Regions from separate parts of the Homo sapiens genome. Here region 2 is linked to region 1. Evidence: fine-mapped expression QTL. Tissue or cell type: lung. Region 1 holds a variant in brackets; the other region holds the start of a gene. All regions are shown on one strand. Distances are from middle to middle.

Region 1 (8,260 bases):
TCTCCCCATCTGCAAATGTGAAATACCAGGCTGCAGAGTTATAAAATAAAGAGAGATAACAGATGTGAAGCCCCTAGCCTTGTACCTGGCTCGTGTATTGGAAACCATCATCATCAAGGATCTTTGTTATTACTAGTGAGGACCAGTGACAGGAATGCTGCCTAAACGTGCACTCTCCGACATCCCAAAGCCAATGCCAGAGCTCACAGTTTAGTGAGCGTCACAGCCACAGCTAAACCCCACTGTGCTCACAACATCTCAGACACACAGACGCAGCCACAGGGACTGCAGCTGGCAGAGGGACACAAGACCTAGGCCCCAAGAATGTGCAGAAATCCCATGCCCTCACCCCACACCACTGTGGTTCAAACGACTGGCTACTCAGTGTCTCCTTATCTGCCACCGTGTCATCACCCCCACTTAGAACCCTTGCAAGAACTGTCCAAGAATTAGCAAGAAGCTCAGAGAACTCAGAGTCGTGGCCAGACCTCACCAAGATAATGCCACAAGATCTGTGCCCTTTGTCAGACCATGGATTTCTGTGTGGGCCCCCTCTCAAACGATTCATCTAATCAAATACTAGAAGACTTGTCCCAACAGGACCTCTACCCCAAAGGGACTATATTCCCTTCTTGGACTTTCCACACCTTCTCTCTCAAGGTCCACACCTCCATCCCCCAACAGACCCTCATCTTCAACCTCACAAAGTAACCAGAAGCCATCCACTTAAAGACTCCATGAGTTCCCTTCACTATCTAGCAACCCCCAAATCAACCTCACCTCTTCTGAAGGGACCTGTCTCATGCGTAAAGCCAGCTAAGCATCCTCTTTCTGGCTCCTTCTCAGCCCATCACCTTCTGATGCTCCACGGATAAAGACCAATACCTCAACTCCGACATCCTACAGGGCTGTGTGGCCTGGCCCCCACCCACCTGTCCAGCCCACCCTCCCCTCTGCCCAAGCCACACCAGCCTCTTCCACACCATGGTGGGTATTTTACCCCTTCTTCTTTTTTTTTTGAAGCGAAGTTTCACTCTTGTCACCCAGGCTGGAAGGCAGTGGTGCGATTTCAGCTCACTGCAACCTCTGCCTCCTGGGTTCAAGTGATTCTTCTCCCTCTGCCTCCCAAGTAGCCGGGATTACAGGTGCCTGCCACCATGCCCAGCTATTTTTTGTATTTTTAGTAGACATGGGGCTTCACCATGTTGGACAGGCTGGTCTCAAACTCCTGACCTTGGGTGATCCACCCGCCTCAGCCTCCCAAAGTGGTGGGATTACAGGTGTGAGCCCCCACGCCCGGCCTGTATTCCTTCTTCACAGGGCCTTTGCACATGCCAGTTCCTGCCTTCAGGGCTCTTCTCTCCACCCAGCCCCCTCCCACCCTAGAAAGGAATCCTCTGGTTGGCTCCACTTCACCATCAGATCTCACCTTCAACCCCACCTCCTCAACAAAGCTGCAGGTCCCCTCATTCCAGGGGACGTTCCTTTGTTCCACAGGTGTGTGAACACCTGTCCCTCATAACATTTACCTCAATTTGTCACCAAACACTCAACTGTGGACCCTTCTCATTCATATCTGCTTTCCCACCACACTATAGCACAGAGCCTTGTCTCTGTTTCATTCATTCAGTCAACAAATGGCCGGGCACGGTGGCTCACACCTGTAATTCCAGCACTTTGGGAGGCTGAGGCAGGCAGATCACCTGAGGTCAGAAGTTTGAGACCAGCCTGGCCAACATGGTGAAACCCCGTCTCTACTAAAAGTACAAAAATTAGCCAGGTGTGGTGGCAGGTGCCTGTAATCCCAGCTACTCAGGAGGCTGAAGCAGAAGAATAGCTTGAACCTGGGAGGTGGAGGTTGCAGTGAGCCAAGATCGCTTCATTGCACCCCAGCCTGGGCGACAAGAGCGGCACTCTTGTCTCACACACACAAACACAAAACAGAAAATTATGGGACATCTACTCCCGCCAGGCTTTGGCTAAATGAGGGGATACTTCAGGGAAGAAGGCAGATAAGGTCCCTGCTCTCAAGGAGAGGGAAAGGAAAAAGTCTAAGAAGGAAAGAGAGTGATGTGACACAGAATACCTGGAAAGGGAGGACTGTCAAAGAAACGGCAGTGGGAAGACCTCTCAGCTGGTACTAAGGCACACAGGCACAGCACAGAGAAGGCGCACAAATATTGGCTGCTGGAATGAAGGGATGAACCTCCTGACAGTTAATTCTGTACTACTAGAACTCTCCATCTTCACGAAAACAATGCATTGACCCGAGGCGATGGCGCACACCTGTAATCCCAGCACTTTGGGAGGCCGAGGCGGGGGGATCAAGAGATCGAGACCATCCTGGCCAAAATGGTGAAACCCCGTCTCTACGAAAAATACAAAAATTAGCTGGGGGTGGTGGCGCGCGCCTGTAGTTGTCCCAGCTACTCGGGAGGCTGGGGCAGGAGAATCGCTTGAACCCGGGAGGCGGAGGTTGCAGTGAGCCGAGATCGCGCCACTGCACTCCAGCCTGGACGAAAGAGCAAGACTCCGTCTCAAAAACAAAAAACAAAACAAAACAAAACAAACAACAACAACAACAAAAACAATGCATGGCTGGAAGGACAGCAATATTTTATCCCCATTTTAAAAATGGAAACTGAGGCCCAGAAGGGGTCAGTAACTTGCCTGCAATTGCAAAGTAATTTAGAATTGTGGAATCTAACACTTCCAGTTACAACTCCCTTTTTCAAGCCCATTTTCTTTTGATCCCCTTCAATATCTCCTTTCACGGTGAAGAAAAGTTCTGAGACATTAAGCTGCTTGCCCACGGCCAGGGCTTGGCATGACCGAGGCCGGGCCTGCGGCCAGTGGGCGGCGCTCGCTCTCCCACGCCAAGGCCTGCCCGCGAGCCGTGGGCCCAGTACCTTGTTGGCCAACTTCTTGTTCAGCTCCTCGGCAATGGAGTCGTTGAGCTTCCTCTCAAACTGCCAAGGGGGGATCCGGACGGTGTCCACCATTTCCACCAGGACGAACATCCCGGCCTGCGCTGGGGGCTCTGGGAACAGGAGGGTCAGTCACGCACCAGGGCCGGGGGCAGGGAGAATCCCCGAGCCCCTTGGTCCCGTCCCAGTCGCTGAGGCCCCCAGGCTGGCGGTGAGGTTGCACGGGGCGGTCTCGGGGGCCCGGTCCGGGCCATGCTCCGCTACTACAACATGAGGAAACTGAGGCCAGAGGGAGGCACTCTCCGTCCACAGCTCCGGGTGCGCGCCCGCGCCGCGAGACCCCGCCACGCCACGCCACTCCACGCCACGCCACTCCACGCCCCGCACCCGCGCCACGTGCCGCCGCTCGTATCACGCACCACGCACCACGCACCGCGCACAGCCGCTCGCGCTTGCGCGACTGCGGGCGAGATTCCGAATCCATCGCTTCCGGAAAACTCACCAATAAGAAACCTCTGTCCACCCCCACCCCGCCGAGGCGGGGCGGGGCTGCCTGTGTGCTCGCGCACAGCGTGGGGCAGAGAGAGGGCGAGGAGAGGGCGGGGCCTCCTCCTTTCACAGGAGCAGAGCGGTTCCCCCGCCCCCGACAGCGCTTTCTGTTGCTAGGCGACCTCCGTGCAATCCCGCCTGATTATCCCTCGCCTGGCCTGTGCTTTACCCGCATTGCTGTCCTCTGCTCGGCAGCCAGAGTGATCCTTTGGAAACGCAAACATATATTACCACATCTAAGTTAAAAAAAAAACCCACCGCAAACATAACATGCTTAGCACCCTTAAGTGTTCCGGAGACAAGGAGAATT[A/G]GCAGGAAAGGGGCACTTGGGACTGTTCTGAGATGATGGAAATGTTCTGTATTTTGTTTTCGGTGGTATAACATTGACGTATATAATTGTCCAAACTAATTGAACTCGGCAAGATTTTTGCATTTATTTGTAGACATTATGTTCCAATTGAAAAGTTATAATAAATTGGAACAAAAAACACAACCCATTGAACTTAGAATACTAGATCCAAGCCGGGCGTGGTGGTGTACACCCGTAGTCCCACCTACTCAGAAGCCTGAGACAGCAGCATCGCTTGAGTCCAGGAGTTTGAGGTTGCAGTTTGAGGTTGCATGCTGCACTCTAGCATGGGTGACAGTGACACCTCATGTCTAAACGAAAAAGAAGAAGAAGGAGAGGCGGAAGAAGAAGAAAGAAGAAGGAGAAGAAGAAGAAGAAAGAAGAAAGAAAAGGGAAAGAAGAAAGAAAAGAAGAAAGAAAGAAGAAAAGTCCAAAACCTTTATGGTAGTTCACACGGCCCTGCAAGATCTGACCATACCCCCCTCCTATAGCCCCATCATGCTCTGTCTCGCTGACATTCCAGTCTCATTCATCTTCACGTGATAGCATGGGCTAAGAGAATTTGGTAGCTTACCCAAGATCACGTGTTGACAAGTGGTAGAGGTGGGCCCAGTCTGAACCTCACTACCCTGCCTCTAAAAATTGGTGGGGTGTAGATGTATACTGTAGTGGGTTTTTTTGTTTGTTTGTTTGTTTGAGACGGAGGATCGCTCTGTCGCCCAGGCTGGAGTGCAGTGGCGCGATCTTGGCTCACTGCAAGCTCCGCCTCTCGGGTTCACGCCATTCTCCTGCCTTAGCCTCCCGAGTAGCTGAGACTACAGGCGCCCACCATCACGCCTGGCTAATTTTTCGTATTTTTTTTTAGTAGAGACGAGGTTTCACCGTGTTAGCCAGGATGGTCTCGATCTCCTGACCTCATGATCTGCCCACCTCAGCCTTCCAAAGTGCTGGGATTACAGGTGTGAGCCACCGCGCCCGGGCTTGTAGTGTGTTTTAACCAAAATAACAATTTAGGTACTTACAAAAGATACTTGGGGTAAATGACAGAGGCACTTGGAAATGTATGGTGCCTTAATTTGCTGATTTCACAAGCATAGTGATCTCTCAGTGACACTGGCTGCAGTGATGCTAAATGTGGCCTTCCCTGCATCTATGATTTTATTTTTAGGTGTGCTTCTATAGGATTTGAGGTACTTGAGGACAGCAGCAAATGCTACTTCAGCTCTTTATTCCCACAATCCCCTAACACATTCCTAGGAAGCATTGAGTAAAGGTGTTTAGGGATTACCATTAATTCTTCCTCTCAAATGTTTCCTCTTCATTCCACTCCCACTGCTATTGCTTCGGTTCAGGCCTTTTCTTTTTTTTTTCTTTTGAGACGGAATCTTGCTCTGTCGCCCAGACTGGAGTGCAGTGGCATGATCTCAGCTCAATGCAACCTCCACCTCCTGGGTTCAAGCGATTCTCCTGCCTCAGCTTCCCAAATAGCTGGAATTACAGGTGCCCACCACCACACTTAGCTAACTTTTGTATTTTTAGATAAGATTTCACCATGTTGGCCAGGCTGGTTTCGAACTCCTGACCTCAGGTGATCCCCCCCATCTTGGCCTCTCAAAGTGCTGAGATTACAGGCATGAGCCACCGTGACTAGCCAATATCTGGTCATTTAAAAGTATGTGGCGGGGCCAGGCGTGGTGGTTCACACCTGTAATCCCATCACTTTGGGAGGCCGAGGTGGGTGGATCACAAGGTCAGGAGATTGAGACTATCCTGGCTAACACGGTGAAACTCTGTCTCTACTAAAAATACAAAAAAAAAAAAAAAAAAAAAAAAGTAGCCGGGCGTGGTGGCACGCGCCTGTGGTCCCAGCTACTTGGGAGGCTGAGGCAGAAGAATCACTTGAACCCGGGAGGCAGAGGTTGCAGTGAGCTGAGATCACACCACTGCACTCCAGCCTGGCGACAAAGTGAGACTCCGTCTCAAAAAAAAAAAGTGTGTGGTGGCCAGGCGTGTGGCTCATGCCTGTAATCCCAGCACTTTGGGAGGCCAAGGTGGGCGGATCACCTGAGGTCAGGAGTTCAAGACCAGCCTGACCAACATGGAGAAACCCCGTCTCTACTAAATACAAAATTAGCCGGGCGTGGTGGCGCATGCCTGTAATCCCAGCTACTCAGGAAGGCTGAGGCAGAAGAATCGCTTGAACCCAGGAGGTGGCGGTTCTGGTGAGCAGAGATCGCGCTATTGTACTCCAGCTTCGGCAACAAGAGCAAAACTCCATCTTGAAAAAAAAAGTGTGTAGCACCTCCCTCCTCCCACTCTCTCTCTTGCTCCTCTTTTCCCCATGTGATGTGCCTGCTCCTCCTTTGATTTCCGATATCATGGGAAGCTTCCCGAGGCATCCCTGGAAGCTGAGCCTATGCCAGTACCATGCTTGCTGTAAAGCCTGTGGAACCATGAGCCAACTAAACCTATTTTTTTTTTTTTGAGACGGATTCTTGCTCTGTCGCCCAGGCTGGAGTGCAGTGGCATGATCTCGGCTCACTGCAAGCTCCACCTCCCGGGTTCATGCCATTCTCCTGCCTCAGCCTCCCAAGTAGCTAGGACTACAGGCACCCGCTACCACGCCCAGCTAGTTTTTTGTATTTTTAGTAGAGATGAGGTTTCACCGTGTTAGTCAGGATGGCCTCGATCTCCTCACCTCATGATCCACCCGCCTTGGGCTCCCAAAGTGCTGGGATTACAGGCGTGAGCCACCGTGCCCAGCCAGCCTATTTTCTTTATAAATTAACCAGCTCTGTTGCCCAGGCTGGAGTGCAGTGGCGCTATCAGGGCTCACTGCAACCTCCACCTCCCCATTTCAAGCGATTCTTCTGCCTCAGCCTCCAGACTAGCTGGGATTACAGGCGTGCACCACCACACCTGGATAATTTTGGTACTTTCAGTAGAGACAAGGTTTTGCCATGTTGGCCAGGCTGGTCTGAAACTCTTGACCTCAAGTGATCCTCAGCTTCGGCCTCCCAAAGTGCTGGGATTACAGGCATGAGCCACCACTACCAGCCAGGTATTTCTTTTTTCTTTCTTTTTTTTTTTGTGCGTGTCACCCAGGTTGGAGTGCAGAGGTGCCATCTCAGCTCACCGCAACCTCCGCCTCCTGAGTTCAAGCGATTCTCCTGCCTCAGCCTCCTGAGTGGCTGAGAGTATAGGCACATGCCACCACGACTGGCTAATTTTTGTAGTTTTAGTAGACACGGGGTTTCACCATGTTGACCAGGCTTGTCTCAAACTCATGACCTCAGGTGATCTGCCTGCCTCGGCCTCCCAAAGTGCTGGGATTACAGGCGTGAGCCACCACGCCAGGCCCAGGTATTTCTTTATAGCAACGTGAGAACAGCCCAAAACAGAACCCACATGTGATGCTGTTCTCATTCATTCGTGCATTCATTCAACATACTGTTGTGTACAGTTGTTGGAGATGCAATGCAGAAGAAAAACTGGGCCTCAAACCGAGCTTCAACTCAGAGCACTTGGTGCTGGAGTTGGGGGGCAGCAGGGTGGGCACTGAGAGAAAGAGCGAGTTTGTACTCTCAGGTAATTAAAAGTATTTGGAGCCAGGCACAGTGGCTCATGCCTATAATCCCAACATTTTGGGAGGCCGAGGCAGGAGGATTGCTTAAGGTCAGTTTGAGACCAGCCTGGGTAACAAAGTGAGATACTGTCTCTACTAAAAAAATAAAATAATTAGCTGGGTGTGATGGCACTTGCCTGTAGTCCTAGCTACTTGGGAGGCTTAGTTGGGAGGATTGCTTGAGCCCAGGAATTTGAGGCTTCAGTGAGCTTTGATCATGCCACTGCCCTCCAGCCTGGGTGACAGAGCAAGACTCTGTCTCTGAAATAAATAATAATATTCGGGCTGATTTACATGGGAGATGACAACTGGTAAGCTAAGAGGTTAGAGACCTAAGCAGCATCCAGATCAGAGGGCCTTATGATTATATTAACAGCTAACATTCATGAGCACTTACTATATGTCAAGTACTACTTAGGTGCTTTATATGCATTAAGTTTGATCCTCAGAACAGCTGTATACAGTAGGAGCTATCATCGTTATCTCACTTGCCCAATTGTCTCATTTTGCCTCATCTAAGGTAAACAGAGGTTAAGTAGGTCATTCAAGGTCATACAGCCAGTAAGTGGCAAACCTGGGACCCAGGCCCCAGAGTCCCTAATCACGACCACCAGGCTGTGCCCCGCCATGACGTTAGAAGTCAGGAGTTCGAGACCAGCCTGGCCAACCTGGTGAAACCCTGTCTCTACTAAAAATACAAAATTAACTGGGCATGGTGGCGCATGCCTGTAATTCCAGCTACTCAGGAGGCTGAGGCAGAATCACTTGAGCCTGGGAGGCAGAGGTTGCAGTGAGCCGAGATTGCGCCAT
Region 2 (8,000 bases), 45 kb after region 1:
AAGACGCCCAGGAATCTCTCAAACTCCCCACTCCCTCTACCCCCAGCCTCACTCCTACCTTCATCCCCGTCACCCAGCTGCTCAGCGATCTTACAGTAGTCAGAGCCGCCCACCACACCGATCTGCACTCTACTTCGTAGCTTCTGCAGGAAGGCGGCCACCTCAGGGTCAATTTTCTATGGGGGGAGAGGGGAAGCATAGCATTCTGGCTTTCAACATGTCTGGGACCTCCACTTAGCCCTCACTTAGTGCTGAGAACCCAGGAAGCCCACATTCTACCTGGATCTGAAGCAGTACAAAGCTTAGACACCAAAAATTAGACAGGTTGGACACTGTGGCTCAGGTCTGCAATCCCAACACTTTGCGAGGCCAAGGCAGAAAGATCACTTGACCCAGGAGTTTGAGACTAGAGCCTAGGCAGCAAAGGAAGACATTGTCTCTATGAAAAAAAAAATTTTTTTGGAGACGAATTTTTGTTCTGTCATCCAGGCTGGAGTGCAGTGGTGTGATTCTGGCTCACTGAAACCTCTGCCCAGGCTGGAGTGCGATGGCGTGATCTCAGCTCACTGCAACCTCTGCCTCCCGGGTTCAAGCGATTCTTCTGCCTCAGCCTCCCGAGTAGCTGGGATTACAGGCGCCTGCCACCATGCCCAGCTAAGTTTTAAATTTTTAGTAGAGACAGGGTTTCGCCATGTTGGCCAGGCTGGTCTTGAACTCCTGACTTCAGGTGATCCATCCGCCTGGGCCTCCCAAAGTGCTGGGATTATAGGCGTGAGCCACCGTGCCTGGCCGAAAGTTTTTAAAAATTAGCCAGGCATGGGCTGGCACGGTGGTTCACACCAGTAATCCCAGCACTTTGGGAGGCCCAGGAGGGTGGATCACTTGATGTCAGGAGTTCGAGACCAGCCTGGCCAACATGGTGAAACTCTGTTTCTACTAAAAATTAAAAAAAAAAAAAAAAAAAAATTGGCCATGCGCGGTGGCTCACGCCTGTAATCCCAGCACTTTGGGAGGCCGAGGCGGGTGGATCACAAGGTCAGGGGATTGAGACCATCCTGGCTAACATGGTGAAACCCTGTCTCTACTAAAAAATACAAAAAAATTAGCCGGGCGTGGTGGCACGCGCCTGTAGTCCCAGCTACTCGGGAGGGCTGAGGCAGGAGAATGGCGTGAACTTGGGAGGCAGAGCTTGCAGTGAGCTGAGATCACGCCACTGCACTCCAGCCTGGGCGACAGAGCGAGACTCCGTCTCAAAAAAAAAAAGAAAAAAAAATTAGCTGGGCGTGGTGGCAAGCGCCTGTAATCCCAGCTACTCAGGAGGCTGAGGCAGGAGAATCCCTTGAACCCGGGAGGTGGAGGTTGCAGTGAACCGAGATCATGCCATCGCACTCCAGCCTGGGGGACAAGAATGAGATTTCATCTCCAAAAAAAAAAAAAAAAAAAGATATTAGCCAGGCATGGTGGCACTTGCCTGTAGTCCCAGCTACCAGCTACTCCAGAAGCTGAGGCGGGAGAATCACTTGAGCCCAGGAGTTCGAGGCTGCAGTGAGCTGTGATAGCGCCACTGCACTCCAGACTGAGTGACAGAGTGAGACCCCGGTCTCTAACAACAACAACAACAAAATAGCATCACAATCAAGTTGATTTTTGAGGAGCCAAAGAACAATAACAAAAATAGCCTCACAAAACAATGCTTAATATTTGCTCTGGGCAAATAGATCCAGATAAAGGCCTGGAGGGAAGCCACACCACAGTAACCACATTAACTTGGGGAGCCGGCCAGGCTCCCCAAGTGCGGTCAGAGTGGACTTTACCCTTCTCTGTTACGTTTCCATTCTTTACCAGGAGAGTGTGCTCATGAAAATGTGTACGATTAAAAATTAACTTTCAAAAGGCACTAAGCACAGAGGCTGGCCCGTAGACAAATTAATAGGCTGTTCTTATTCAGGTTGTTATGTTTGTGGAGCAAAAGGTCAGAGGGAGGAGTCAGAACTGTGCCTAGGCCCTGCCACTTTTGTTCCAGTTCTTTTATTCATTTATTTGTTTGTTTGAGACGGAGTTTCACTCTTGTTGCCCAGGCTGGAGTGCAATGGCACAATCTTGGCTCACTGCAACCTCCACCTCCTGGGTTCAATCGATTCTCCTGCCTCTGCCTCCCCAGTAGCTGGGACTACAGGCACACGACACCACGCCCATCTACTTTTTGTTTTGTTTTGTTTTGAGACTGAGTCTCCCTCTGTCGCCCAGGCTGTAGTGCAATGGCACATTCTCGGCTCACTGCAACTTCTGCCTCTCGGGTTCAAGTGATTCTCCTGCCTCAGCCTCCCGACTAGCTAGGATTACAGGTGCATGCCACCACGCCTGGCTAATTTTTTGTATTTTTAGTAGAGATAGGGTTTCACGATATTGGTCAGGCTGGTCTTAAACTCCTGACATCGTGATCTGTCTGCCTCGGCCTCCCAAAGTGCTGGGATTACAGGCGTGAGCCACTGAACCCAGCCTAATTTTTGTATTTTTAGTAGAGACGGGGTTTCACCATGTTAGCCAGACTGATCTAGAATTCCTGACCTCAGGTGATCTGCCCACCATGGCCTCCCAAAGTGCTGGGATTACAGGCGTGACCCACAAGCAAATGGCCCACCTTTGCTCCAGTCCTGCTATCTTCCTCCCGGATCCACCCCTGCAGGAAGGCCTCCAGGGCCCAAGCCAGGGCAACTTCACCACAGAGGATGGGGAGGGGCATTCGGGACCTAAGAGAGGAGGCTAAGACCTGGGTTCCCATCAGCCACTGCCCAGTAAAGCCCATCCCACTGCTCCCCCACGCTAGGAGACCTGTTGGTTGGTCCTTGAGGCCCCCAGACTGGAGGGTGGGTTACCCACAGGGAGGGCATGAATGAAGCCTGCTTACTGATGCATCCAGCTGGTGAGGGGGCTTTTGGGGACTCACTCACAATGAGACCCAATGGGAGAAAAACTGAGCAGAGGTAAGAGGCTCAACACAGCGAGAGTCTTTAGAAGAAAACTAGACTCTTACCCTCACTATTCCTCAGTGTCCTCACAGCAAACAGGCTAGGCCTGGAGCCTCTCACATCCGGGTGGGTAGAGCTCATAAACGAATTTGAAAAGAAGCCCTCTCTGCTCCACGACTGGGGGTGGAAGGTAAAGTGGGTGATGGGGCTTCAGAAACTAGACCCAGTCCCAGGCCTGCAAAGGTCGGGGTGGGAAGACTCCGAGACGCCCTGTCTCCCACCAGATGATGACTGACGCTTGGCTGTGTGCTTGTGTGCCTGGAACCCCGGTTCAGAAGCCAGCTCCGACCACTGGTGTGTCGTAGGGCTGAACTAGGGTGGGATCCCCAGCTCAGGAGGCGGGGGCGTCCGTGAGCCAGGCCTTAGCGGCGTGTGACAGCCTCCGGGGAGGGAGGGAGCTAGGCCCCTGCTCGCAGCCTCCTCCCTCCAGTACTGGATCCAACCCCAGCACTCCCAAGCAGAACACAGGCAAGGACGCTGCGGGGTCAGTGACGTGAGGGCCAGGTCCCCTCACTCCCGGTGGGTGGCCCCGGATGTCAGGGGGCCGGGTACCGCCGCATCCCACACTCGGTCCCCGGGTGTCCACGGTCACGCTGCTGCAGACCCCACACTCAGCCTCGGGGGTGTCCGCGTGACACTCCCGGTGGGAGCTTCCAATCTTCAGGGTCCTACCTGGCGAGCCGGCGTGAGGGTCCCGTCCACGTCAAACAGGCAGAGGACGCGCTCCTTCCTGCGGGCTGCCTGGGCGGTGACTGCCATGGCTGCAGGTCCGCGCGCGGGGCGGAGTCCCGAAGATGCAACGGCAGAAGCAGCTCAGGGATAAGTGCTGACGGGGCGGGGCATTAGGGGGCGGGGGCCAGTGGACTGCCTGATTGGCCAAATGAAGAAGGGGCGTGGTCTAGGCGGGCGGAAGCGGGGGCGGGGCCTGAGCTGATTCTCATTGCTCGTGGAGGAGGGGAGCGCGGCATAGGGCGGAGCGGAGCCCTCCAGGTTCGATTGGATTGCTCCAAACAAGGCGGAGGAGGGGCCTGAGCCTGGGACCCGCAGGAAGTGAGAGGGTGAACCCGGAAGACAGGGGCGGGGCCAGAATTGGCGGGTTGATAGTGATTGCAACAGGCCGATTAAGGGGCTGGGTCGGGCGGGGCCTCTACCATGCAGTGCAGTGTCTAGTGGGCCAGGCGGGACTAAGAGAGCCGAGGTCGCTCCCCATCCACTCTCACAAGGTTTGTGGCCATCTCTTTGCCTTACAAATTTTGAGCTGTAGGAAATCTCCTGAGCCGGGCGCGGTGGTTCACGCCTGTAATCCCAGCAGTTTGGGACGTCGAGGCGGGCGGATCACCGGAGGTCGGGAGTTCGAGACCAGCCTGACCAACATGGAGAAACCTCGTCTCTACTAAAAATACAAAATTAGCCAGGCGTGGTGGCGCATGCCTGTAATCTCAGCTACTCAGGAGGCTGAGGCAGGAGAATCGCTTGATTCCAAAGAAGCCAGAGGTTGCGGTGAGCCGAGATCGCGCCATTGCACTCCAGCCTCAAAAAAAAAAAAAAAAAAAAAAAAGGAAAGAAAAGAAAAGAAAAGAAATCTCCTGAAGGCCTTTGTTCAGGCTTTGGACTTTGCCAAATTGCCTTCCCCGAGCCTTATTCCTTCTGTCCACACATAAGACCCAGCTCTCAGGGTCTACCTGCTTGGAGACCTTCCCAGATTCTTCTTTTTTTTTTTTTTTTTTGAGACAGAGTCTCGCTCTGCCCAGGCTGGAGTGCAGTGGCGGGATCTCTGCCCACTGCAACCTCCACCTCCCAGGTTCAAGCGGTTCTCATGCCTCAGCCTCCCGAGTAGCTGGGACTGCAGGCGTGTGCCACCATGCCCACCTAATTTTTGTATTTTTACTTACTTTTATGTTTATTTTATTTTATTTTTGACACAGGGCGATTTATTTATTTATTTATTTATTTTTTGAGACTGGGTCTCACTCTGTTACTCAGGTTGGAGTGCAGTGGCATGATCTCGGCTCACTGCAACCTCCGCCTCCCAGGTTCAAGTGATTCTCCTGCCTCAGCCTCCTGAGTAGCTGAAACTACAGAAGTGCGCCACCACGCCCGGCTAATTTTTTTTTTTTTTCTGAGACGGAGTTTTGCTCTTGTTGCCCAGGCTGGAGTGCAATGGCACGATTTCAGCTCACCACAACCTCTGCCTCCCGAGTAGCTGGGATTATTTTGTACCCACTACCACGCTCGGCTAATTTTTTATTTTTAGTAGTAATTTTGTATTTTCACCATGTTAGCCAGGCTGGTCTCGAACTCCTGGCCTCAGGTGATCTGCCTGCCTCAGCCTCCCAAAGTGCTGGGAATACAGGCATGAGCCACCGTTCCCAGCCAACCTTCCCAGATTCGATTCACAATTATTTAACCATTGCGTTGACTTTGGAGTCACTTCCAGGTTGCCTTCCCAGCTCCACCACTATGGGACCTTGGACAAGTCACTTCACCTCTCAGAGGCTTTGTGTCTTCACCTATAAAATGGGATGAACACCACCTGCTTTGTAGGTTTGCTTTTCACATGAAAATAAGTAACAGGCTGGGCGCGGTGGCTCACGCCTGTAATCCCAACACTTTGGGAGGCCGGGATGGGCAGATCACCTGAGGTCATGAGTTTGAGACCAGCCTGGCCAACATGGGGAAAGTCCGTCTCTACTAAAAATACAAAAATTAGCCGGGCATGGTGGCAGGAGCCTGTAATCCCAGCTACTTGGGAGGCTGAGGCGGAAGAATCACTTGAACCTGGAAGGCGGTGGTTGCAGTGAGCCGAGATGATGCCACTGCGCTCCAGCCTGGGAGACAGAGGGAGACTACACCTCAAACAAACAAACTAACTAACTAACTAACTAACTAAATAAATAAAAAATAACTGTAGAGCTGGATGCGGTGGCTCACACCTGTAATTCCAGCACTTTGGGAGGCCAAGGTGGGTGGATTGTTTGAACCCAGGAGGTCAAGATCAGCCTGGGCAACATGGCAAAATGCTGTCTCTACTAAAAATACAAAACATTAGCCAGGCATGGTGGCAGGCACCTGTGGTCCCTCAGGAGGCTAAAGTAGGAGAATCACCAGGAAGCTGAGGCTGCAACGAACCAGATCTTCCCACTGCACTCCAGCCTGGGTAACAGTAGTGAGACCCTGTCTCAAGAAAAAAAAAAAAAAAGATGCAGATCATATGAGTCAGCAATTCAACTTTTAGAAAATAGGAAAAGAGGCTGAGCGCGGTAGCTCACGCCTGTAATCCCAGCACTTTGGGAGGCCAAGGCAGGCAGACCACAAGGTCAAGAGATCGAGACCATCCTGGCTAACGTGGTGAAACCCCGTCTCTACTAAAAATACAAAAAATTAGCCAGGCGTAGTGGCGGCACCTGTAGTCCCAGCGACTCGGGAGGCTGAGGCAGGAGAATCCCTTGAACCCGGGAGGCGGAGCTTGCAGTGAGCCGAGATCACACCACTGCACTCCAGCCTGGGCCATAGAGCGAGACTCTGACTCGGAAAAAAAAAAAAAAAGGCCAAGCGCGGTGGTTCACACCTGTAATCCAGCACTTTGGAAGGCTGAGGTGGGCGGATCACGAGGTCAGGAGATCGAGACCATCCTGGCTAACACGGTGAAACCCCATCTCTACTAACAATACAAAAAATTAGCTGGGCGTGGTGGCGGGTGCCTATAGTCCCAGTTACTTGGGAGGCTGAGGCAGGAGAATGGTGTGAACCTGGGAGGCGGAGCTTGCAGTGAACCGAGATCACGCCACTGCACTCCAGCCTGGGCAACAGAGCAGACTCCGTCTCAAAAAAAAAAGAAAGAAAAGAAAATAGAAAAAAGGAAAAATATATGGAATTGTTTAAATGAACTAAGACCCATCTAGAAGATGAAATGCTACGAAGCCATGAAAATCTGCATTGTGTTTGTGTGCGTGTGCACGTGTGTGTGTAGAATAGGGTCTCACTATTTTGTCCAGGCTGCTCTCAAACTCCTGGCCTCAAATGGTCCTCACGACTCAGCCTCCCAAAGTGTTGGGATTACAGGCGTGACCAAAGTGTTGGGATTACAGGCCTGACCCACCGCACCAGATCCCCAGGCACAATTCTTGTTTTTCTGACTGGGTAGCTATGGTGTCCTGGAGAGATCATTGGAGTTGGAATCAGGAGAACTGCAGTTTGGTCCTGGCTAACTACAAGGACTTGGACAGGTCACCTTTCCTCACTGGGCTTCAGTTTCTTTATATGTAATGAGGATATAAACCCCACGTGATAGAACTATGAAAGGTGATGAGAGGTGACAGCGTACTAGCAGCCCTCGCTCACTCTTGGTGCCTCCTCAGCCTCGGCGCCCATTCTGGCCGTGCTTGAGGAGCCCTTCAGCCCGCCGCTGCACTGTGGGAGCCCTTCTCTGGGCTGGCCGAGGCCGGCGCCGGCTCCCTCGGCTTGCGGGGAGGTGTGGAGGGAGAGGCACGGGCGGGAACCGGGGCTGCAAGCGGCGCTTGCGGGCCAGCTAGAGTTCTGGGTGGGCGTGGGCTTGGCGGGCCCCGCACTCAGAGCGGCAGGCCGTGCCGGCCCGAGCAGTGAAGGGCTTAGCAGCCGGGCCAGCAGCTGTGGAGGGTGCGCCGGGTCCCCCAGCAGTGCCGGCCCACCGGCGCTGCGCTCGATTTCTCACAGGGCCTTAGCTGCCTCCCCGCTGGGCAGGGATCGGACCTGCAGCCCGCCATGCCTGAGCCTACCCTCTGCCGTGGGCTCCTGCGCAGACAGAGCCTCCCCGGCGAGCGCCGCCCCCTGCTCCATGGCGCCCAGTCCCATCGACCACCCAAGGGTTGAGGAGTACGGGCGCACGGCGCGGGACTGGCAGGCAGCTCCACCTGCAGCCCCGGTACAAGATGCACTGGGTGAAGCCAACTGGGCTCCTGAGTCTGGTGGGGACTTGGAGAACCTTTATGTCTA

Evidence for each region. PIP is the estimated chance that this variant, and not a neighbour inherited with it, causes the effect.
Region 2: PMM1 starts here. The variant in region 1 is fine-mapped to the expression of PMM1 in lung (TOPMed, PIP above 0.99).

What each region holds. Positions count from the first base shown.
Region 1 is chr22:41,541,082-41,549,341 of GRCh38, forward strand. It overlaps POLR3H (RNA polymerase III subunit H), which reads right to left and starts at 3,389. Exons shown (of 6, transcript NM_001018050.4): 1 at 2,910-3,389. The coding sequence starts at 3,020. RefSeq lists enhancers at 2,750-3,587, 2,910-3,009, 3,020-3,109 and silencers at 3,160-3,289, 3,480-3,579. The variant A/G (reference allele first, on the strand shown) is at 3,787.
Region 2 is chr22:41,586,018-41,594,017 of GRCh38, forward strand. PMM1 (phosphomannomutase 1) reads right to left here and starts at 3,823. Exons shown (of 8, transcript NM_002676.3): 1 at 3,702-3,823; 2 at 59-176. The coding sequence starts at 3,788. RefSeq lists an enhancer at 2,948-3,627 and a silencer at 4,022-4,171.